Homo sapiens: one gene and its partner. The protein of the gene in region 1 purifies or fractionates together with the protein of each later gene. This does not show direct contact. Each region holds a gene or a part of one and is shown in the gene's direction. Other genes may lie near its edges.

The links. Proteins that work in one complex are often made in the same cells at the same time.
Region 2: the proteins of KLK8 (region 1) and ATP4A purify together in Homo sapiens (affinity purification with mass spectrometry; 3 studies listed by BioGRID and IntAct, with this or other methods). This does not show direct contact.

The regions. Positions count from the first base shown.
Region 1 is NC_000019.10:50,995,360-50,998,608, reverse strand, and holds the end of KLK8 (kallikrein-8 isoform 1 preproprotein), read left to right. Parts: intron 1-724; coding exon 725-858; intron 859-2,394; coding exon 2,395-2,550; 3' UTR 2,551-2,601; downstream 2,602-3,249. UniProt on the Homo sapiens protein: Serine protease which is capable of degrading a number of proteins such as casein, fibrinogen, kininogen, fibronectin and collagen type IV. Also cleaves L1CAM in response to increased neural activity.
Region 2 is NC_000019.10:35,553,622-35,557,273, reverse strand, and holds part of ATP4A (potassium-transporting ATPase alpha chain 1), read left to right. Parts: intron 1-185; coding exon 186-361; intron 362-1,461; coding exon 1,462-1,598; intron 1,599-1,683; coding exon 1,684-1,834; intron 1,835-1,939; coding exon 1,940-2,108; intron 2,109-2,197; coding exon 2,198-2,352; intron 2,353-3,444; coding exon 3,445-3,568; intron 3,569-3,652. UniProt on the Homo sapiens protein: The catalytic subunit of the gastric H(+)/K(+) ATPase pump which transports H(+) ions in exchange for K(+) ions across the apical membrane of parietal cells.

The DNA.
Region 1 (3,249 bases):
CCCCTCAAAGAGGCTTTGGAGAAGTCTATTCCTCAAAAGAGGTTAATAAAAAAGATCAATTCCACCTTCAATCATTAATTCAACTCTTATTTACTGAGCACCTAGTATGCCTGAGGTGCTGTTGCAGGCGCTGGATATACAGCCATGAGCAAACTGTACAAAGTCCTTGTCGTTATGGAGTTGCAAGCTAGGTGGGAGAAATAGACAATAAACAAATACACATAAAATAAAACATTAGGCAAAGTGCTGTAAGGAAATATTGTGGAGCGTAAAAGGATAGGGAGTAATGGAGGGATGGTATTTTTTAATTCGAGTGGTCAGGGAAGGCTTCCAGGAGGAGGTGACACTTGGAAGGAGCAGGATTTAGCACAGATTGAGGACCCGGTTGTCTGAGGGCAGGAAGACTGGAAAGAGAGGGTCAGAGGTATCATAAAGGGGCACCTCCAAGTAACCCCCAGCCCCTTGATTTGAAAATGGCTCAGGGTAAGAAAAAACACGTGAGATCCAAGGGCCCCTCTCTAGATGGAGAAAGCCCAATAGCAACAAGTACAGCTTCGTTTAATGTGGTGAGAAGTGATGTCCCCTGTGCACAGTGTCAGAAAATTCCCCCATGCAGCTGGAAAACTCCCCCATTACATCCTGGAAAGAAAGGGGGTTAGATCCAGACAGGGATGGAGGCAAAGGGCTGCTCTCTCAGGGAACCTTACAACCTCTTCCCCCTCAGAGAATTTTCCTGACACTCTCAACTGTGCAGAAGTAAAAATCTTTCCCCAGAAGAAGTGTGAGGATGCTTACCCGGGGCAGATCACAGATGGCATGGTCTGTGCAGGCAGCAGCAAAGGGGCTGACACGTGCCAGGTGAGCAATTTCTGAAATCCTTCTCCTCACACATCCCTCATTGCCCTCTCGAGGTTCAAGGCTTGGATGGGGGTGGGGGTGGTAAGGGAGTGACCCCAAAGACTTGGCACCCGGAGTGTTCACCCCTATCTCTACGGATTGGGAGCCAGGTTCAGAGAAGCCAAACTCTCTCTCTGAAAGTCACACTGCATAGGGATTAGGAGCATTGAATTGCTGCTGCTGTTTTCTTTCGAACGCTTAACTACAGGATGGGATGCAGAGTTGGGGGCTATAGAGGGTGGGGTAGATGTCCAGCAAGGAGAGAGTCTGAGGCTAGAGTTTAGACGAGTTGCCTGCTCTCTGGTTCCCAGCATTACATCGTGGAATTTGTGCCGACTTTACCACCGGCCCGGTGGTCAGCCACTTTTCTTTGAGACCGGGCTAGAATCCCAAGGCTGGTTCCCTTCTCCTGTGATTGGTTCCTTGGGAGACAATGGTGTCTTCCCAGTTGGCTGGAGTAAATGGTGCCATTGACTTCAGTGCTTCCTCAATGAGCTCCAATCCCTTTCTCTTGGGATTTGTCATAGATATAACTCTCTCTTCTAACTGCAACTTCGTTGTTCCTAGCACTTTCCCCTGGCTTTGTCCACTTCCTGGAAGCCCCACCACCTTTGCCAATGACTGGTCCCTAAATACAATGCTTTCTTCCCCATTGGCCAAAAATGGAGTCGTTTCCATCAGCGATACTGCCATGAAAGCCAGTCTCTGGATTGTTCTGTAGAGATAGTGGTCTCTTCCACAAATATTTCAGCCATGGTCTCTTGGGGATATGGTGTGTGTGTGTGTGTGTGTGTGTGTGTGTGTGTGTGTGTGTGTGTCCATAAGAATCTTGATCCTTTCTCCTATGTTTGGCAACTGCAATCAATGATGCCTTCACTATTGGCCAGGAACAGAGGAAACTTCAGCTCAGTCCTCTCCAAGTAATCCCTACTGTCTTCTCCCTGGATTGGACCCTCGAGAACTCTTTTTTTTTTTTTTTTGAGACAGGGTCTCGCTCTGTCCCCCAAGCTGGAATGCAGTGGCACAATCTTGGCTCACTGCAGCCTCTGCCTCCCAGTTCAAGCAATTCTCCCACCTCAGCCTCCCGAGTAGCTGTGATTACAGGTGTGCACCACCACACCCAGCTAGTTTTTGTATTTTTAGTAGAGACAGGGATTCACCATGTTGGCCAGGCTGGTCTGGAACGCCTGACTTCAAGTGATCTACCGCCTCGGCCTCCCAAAGTGCCGGGATTGCAGGTGTGAGCCACCAAGCCTGTCTGGGATTTCATTCTTTCCCCTCTTCTGTCAGTGTTTTGACCACTACCCTTAGACACCATGTCTGTCTGTACATGGAAGCCCCAAGCCCTGTCCTGACTGGTCTCAGGGGACAATGCTTTTACCCCCATTGGCTACAGGGGACCAATCATGCCAAAGAACTGGTAAAACGCTGGGACAGCAGGAAAAGGGACGTTGTGGACATCTCAGATGCAAGGCTGTTCTCATTCTCCCTGTCTAGGGCGATTCTGGAGGCCCCCTGGTGTGTGATGGTGCACTCCAGGGCATCACATCCTGGGGCTCAGACCCCTGTGGGAGGTCCGACAAACCTGGCGTCTATACCAACATCTGCCGCTACCTGGACTGGATCAAGAAGATCATAGGCAGCAAGGGCTGATTCTAGGATAAGCACTAGATCTCCCTTAATAAACTCACAACTCTCTGGTTCCTTGCCTGTCTCTGTTTTGGCCCTGTGGGGAGGGCTGGATGGGGATCCGGGATTGTTCCTGCTGGCAGACTAGGTGGGGATGTGCAGAAACCAAGTTCTCATGGTCACTTTGGCCATCACCACTGCCTAAAGTGATCCCTCGTTTTCTGGAAGAACTTGGGTAAGAGCTTTATTTCAGGGGAGAAAATACATACAAAGGTCTTCAAACATTCAGTGGGCTGGTATGTGAAAGACAGTTTTGAAAGAGTTTGTGTTTAGTTTTCCTGAGCAAAGCATTTACAAGCTTTGGAGATAAAATTTTCCCCCTTTAAAAAATAATTGGCCAGGTGCGGTGGCTCAAGCCTGTAATTTCAGCACTTTGGGAGGCCGAAGCGGATGGATCACCTGCGGTTAGGAGTTCGAGACCAGCCTGGCCAACATGGCAAAACCCCGTCTCTACTAAAAATACAAAAATTAGCAGGGTGTGGTGGTGGGCATCTGTAAACTCAGCTACTCAGGAGGCTGAGGCAGAAGAATCGCTTGAACCCAGGAGGCGGAGGTTGCAGTGAGCCAGGGATCATGCCATTGTACTCCAGCCTGGGTGACAAGAGCAAGACTCGGTCTCAAAATAAATAAACAAATAAATTAATAATAATAATTGTGCCAGGT
Region 2 (3,652 bases), about 15 Mb from region 1:
GATGAGAATGGGCCTCACAGGGTGGTTGTGAGGGTAGATTCAGATAATGTGAGTGAAGGGGTCAGCACAAGGTCAGGCATCCATAGGTGTTTGGTGCAAGGGGCCTGGTTATTTTACCCATTTCCTGGCCCTGCTAAGAAAGGGTGTGCCCAGGGCTCTTCCCTGACTTCCCCGTTTCCGGTCAGGCTTCTGCCAGCTCTACCTGAATGAGAAGGACTACCCGCCTGGCTATGCCTTCGACGTAGAGGCCATGAACTTTCCATCTAGCGGCCTCTGCTTTGCGGGACTTGTATCCATGATTGACCCACCCCGGGCCACCGTCCCTGATGCTGTGCTCAAGTGTCGCACCGCAGGCATCCGGGTATGCCACTGTGGGGAGGAACAAGTGGAGTGAGGACAGAGGATGGCAGCAGGATTTGGGTTGAAGAACCCCATGACAAACCCACCTGAAACTGGCTTGAACCAAAATGCATTGGTTTATGATACTGAAAAATTCTGGGGAATTAAGCTTCAGGTCTAGCCAGATCCAGGAGCTCAGTGTCATTAGGAATTTTCCTTTCTCCATGTCTCAGCTCTGCTGTTCTCTTTGCTGGCTTTATTTGCAGGCACTCCCTTCACTTGGGGACACACACACCCCTGCTCCAGCAGCTCAAACTTAACTCCCACCTGCTTAGCCACCCCACAAAAAGAGAGTGCCTCTTTTGCAGTAGCACTGGATTGGGTCACTCATTTATCCCTGAGCCAGTCACTGGGGCTGGGGGATGGAAGACCTTGATTGGCCAGGTCTGGGCTTACTTACCCAATCTTAGCCAGGGACCTCACTGCAACTGATGGTGTAGGGGAGAGGAGTGGTTCCCCAAACACAAAACAAGGGTGGGAAAGCCAAGGCCAGGCAGGCAATGCCCAAGCCCTTCCCGTGTCTCTACGGCCCTGTTACATCGGGCCTTGTTACCTTTCTAAGCTTGTTCGTTAGCCCTCTTTCCTTGTTCACTCCTCTGCAGTTATGGTGTCCTCCCTGCTGTTCCTCCGACAGTTCGGGCCTGTCCTCACCTCAGGGCCTTTGCACCTGCTGTTCTCCCTGCCAGGAGCACTCTTCTCCCAGCTTTCCACGTGGCTGACTCTCTCACCTCTTACAGGTCTCTGCTCAGATATCACCTTCTCAATAAGCCCTTCCCTGGGTACACTTAAAATCGAGTCACCGTTTCCTTCACCAAGCTTAATATGTTTTTTTCCACTTTCTAACACACTATATAATTCGTTTCTTTATTTTCTGTCACCCTCACTAGAGCTCCTCAAGGACAGGGATTTTTGTCTCTTTTGTCTCTGCTATATCCCAGGCACGTAGGAGGTGGTCACGCTTGGTCAAGTAAATGAACACGTGTATCAGCAGATGTCTCCCAGGGAGGACAGGGAGATTGGGCTGATCTGAAGGGGTCAGTGATCCACTGGTTCCCCCTACAGGTGATCATGGTAACGGGTGACCACCCCATCACCGCCAAGGCCATTGCAGCCAGTGTGGGCATCATCTCGGAAGGCAGCGAGACAGTGGAGGACATCGCTGCCCGCCTCCGTGTGCCCGTAGACCAGGTTAATCGCAAGTAAGCCCCCCCAGACCTCCCCGGGGTTCTCCCCACATCTGGCACAGACCGAGGTCCCAGCGAGGTCCTCCCATCTCCTCCCCAGGGATGCCCGTGCCTGTGTGATCAATGGCATGCAGCTGAAGGACATGGACCCATCGGAACTGGTCGAGGCCCTGCGCACCCACCCCGAGATGGTGTTTGCGCGCACCAGCCCCCAGCAGAAGCTGGTGATCGTGGAGAGCTGCCAGCGGCTGGTGAGCCCTGCTGATGAGGGTGGGCAGGCGGGCAGACAGGCGGGGCTGGTCTTGGACCGGCCTCTCACTGACCACCCACCCACCACCTGCACCCACTGCCTGCAGGGTGCGATTGTGGCCGTCACGGGGGATGGTGTGAATGACTCCCCAGCTCTGAAGAAGGCAGACATCGGAGTAGCCATGGGCATCGCTGGCTCAGATGCTGCCAAAAATGCAGCTGACATGATCCTGCTGGATGACAACTTTGCCTCCATTGTGACAGGCGTGGAGCAGGGTCCGAGCCACGCCAGGGGGAGGGCAGGCAGTGTGGGCACAGGAGGGAGAGGGCTGTGAGGAGGCTGAGGTGCCCACCCTACCCCACAGGTCGACTGATCTTCGACAACCTGAAGAAGTCTATTGCCTACACATTGACCAAGAACATCCCAGAGCTGACACCCTACCTCATCTACATCACCGTCAGCGTGCCCCTGCCCCTCGGGTGCATCACCATCCTCTTCATCGAACTCTGCACTGACATTGTAAGTCCACAGCCCAGGGTACCCATCCACAGGGTGCCCAGAGACACTTGCTTGCAGATGGACAGGAGGGACAGAGACCACCACAGACACTCTTGGGCACAGAGTGACAGACAAGACCTGTGTGTGCAATGACAGCCAGTGCAGGACACATGGGTGGCAGGCAGGTGAACAGACCTAAATGGACATACAGCCATGCACACACAGGCGGACACTCAGGTAGGCCCGGGCCGACCCATGCACACACATGACTCAGATACAGATACTCAGACAGAGATGGAAACAGAACAGGTATCTGGCCAAACTTGAATCACAGACACGTGCCCCTAAACAGACACGGACAAATAAACCCCCTCAGATAGACCCCATGGCAGACAGACAGAAAAGAACCACAGATACAGTCACGAATGCAGCCAGAGGCGCAGCTGTGTTGACAGGTATTTATTCGGTAACATTTACACAGTGCTTTCTCTGGGCCAGACACACCATCATTTCCTTAATTTTGTACTCATAACCACACTATGAGATGAGTTTTGTTACTATCACCCGTACTTTACTGATGAGCTCATCAAGGCATAGACAGGTAGAGTGGATTGTCCCAGGTCACTGGGCAAATAAGTGGCCCGGCTGTGACTTGAGCTTGAGCAGTCACAGGTCCCACAGCCTGTGGTCGTGGTCAGTATGCTCTGCTGCCACTCTAGGCACAAGCAGATGAAGGGGCACGGCGACACTGAGAGACTGAAGATACACAGAGATAGGGAGTGACACAGAAATACACAAGAGCAGATACAGTCACAGAGAATTACACTGGAGACAGGGACAGAGAAACAGAGTGAGGAACAGAGAAAGAGAGGGAGGGAGACAGAGGGAGAAGATAAAAGCAGATGTTCTTACGAAGATGGGCACCAGGATGCCAACACCCAGGGGCCAGTGGGGCCCAGGCTGTCCAGGCTGGTGTGGCTGTGCCGTCCCTGCAGGTCCTGCCTGCTAACCTCAGTCCTGTTCCTGCTCACAAGTGGGGGAAGGGGGACCCGAAGTGGAGGGGACAAGGGCCCAGCCAAACCCTCAGTCCCAGTTCCTTCCACTCCTGGCCAGTTCCCATCTGTGTCCCTGGCATATGAAAAGGCCGAGAGTGACATCATGCACCTGCGTCCACGCAACCCAAAGCGTGACAGATTGGTCAACGAGCCCCTGGCTGCCTACTCCTACTTCCAGATTGGTGGGTGCCCGTGGGCCGGGGAGCCTGGAGGTGGGGGGCTCTGCGCTGGGCTGCTCGCCTGCCCCAGGCCCTGCCTTGGGCTCC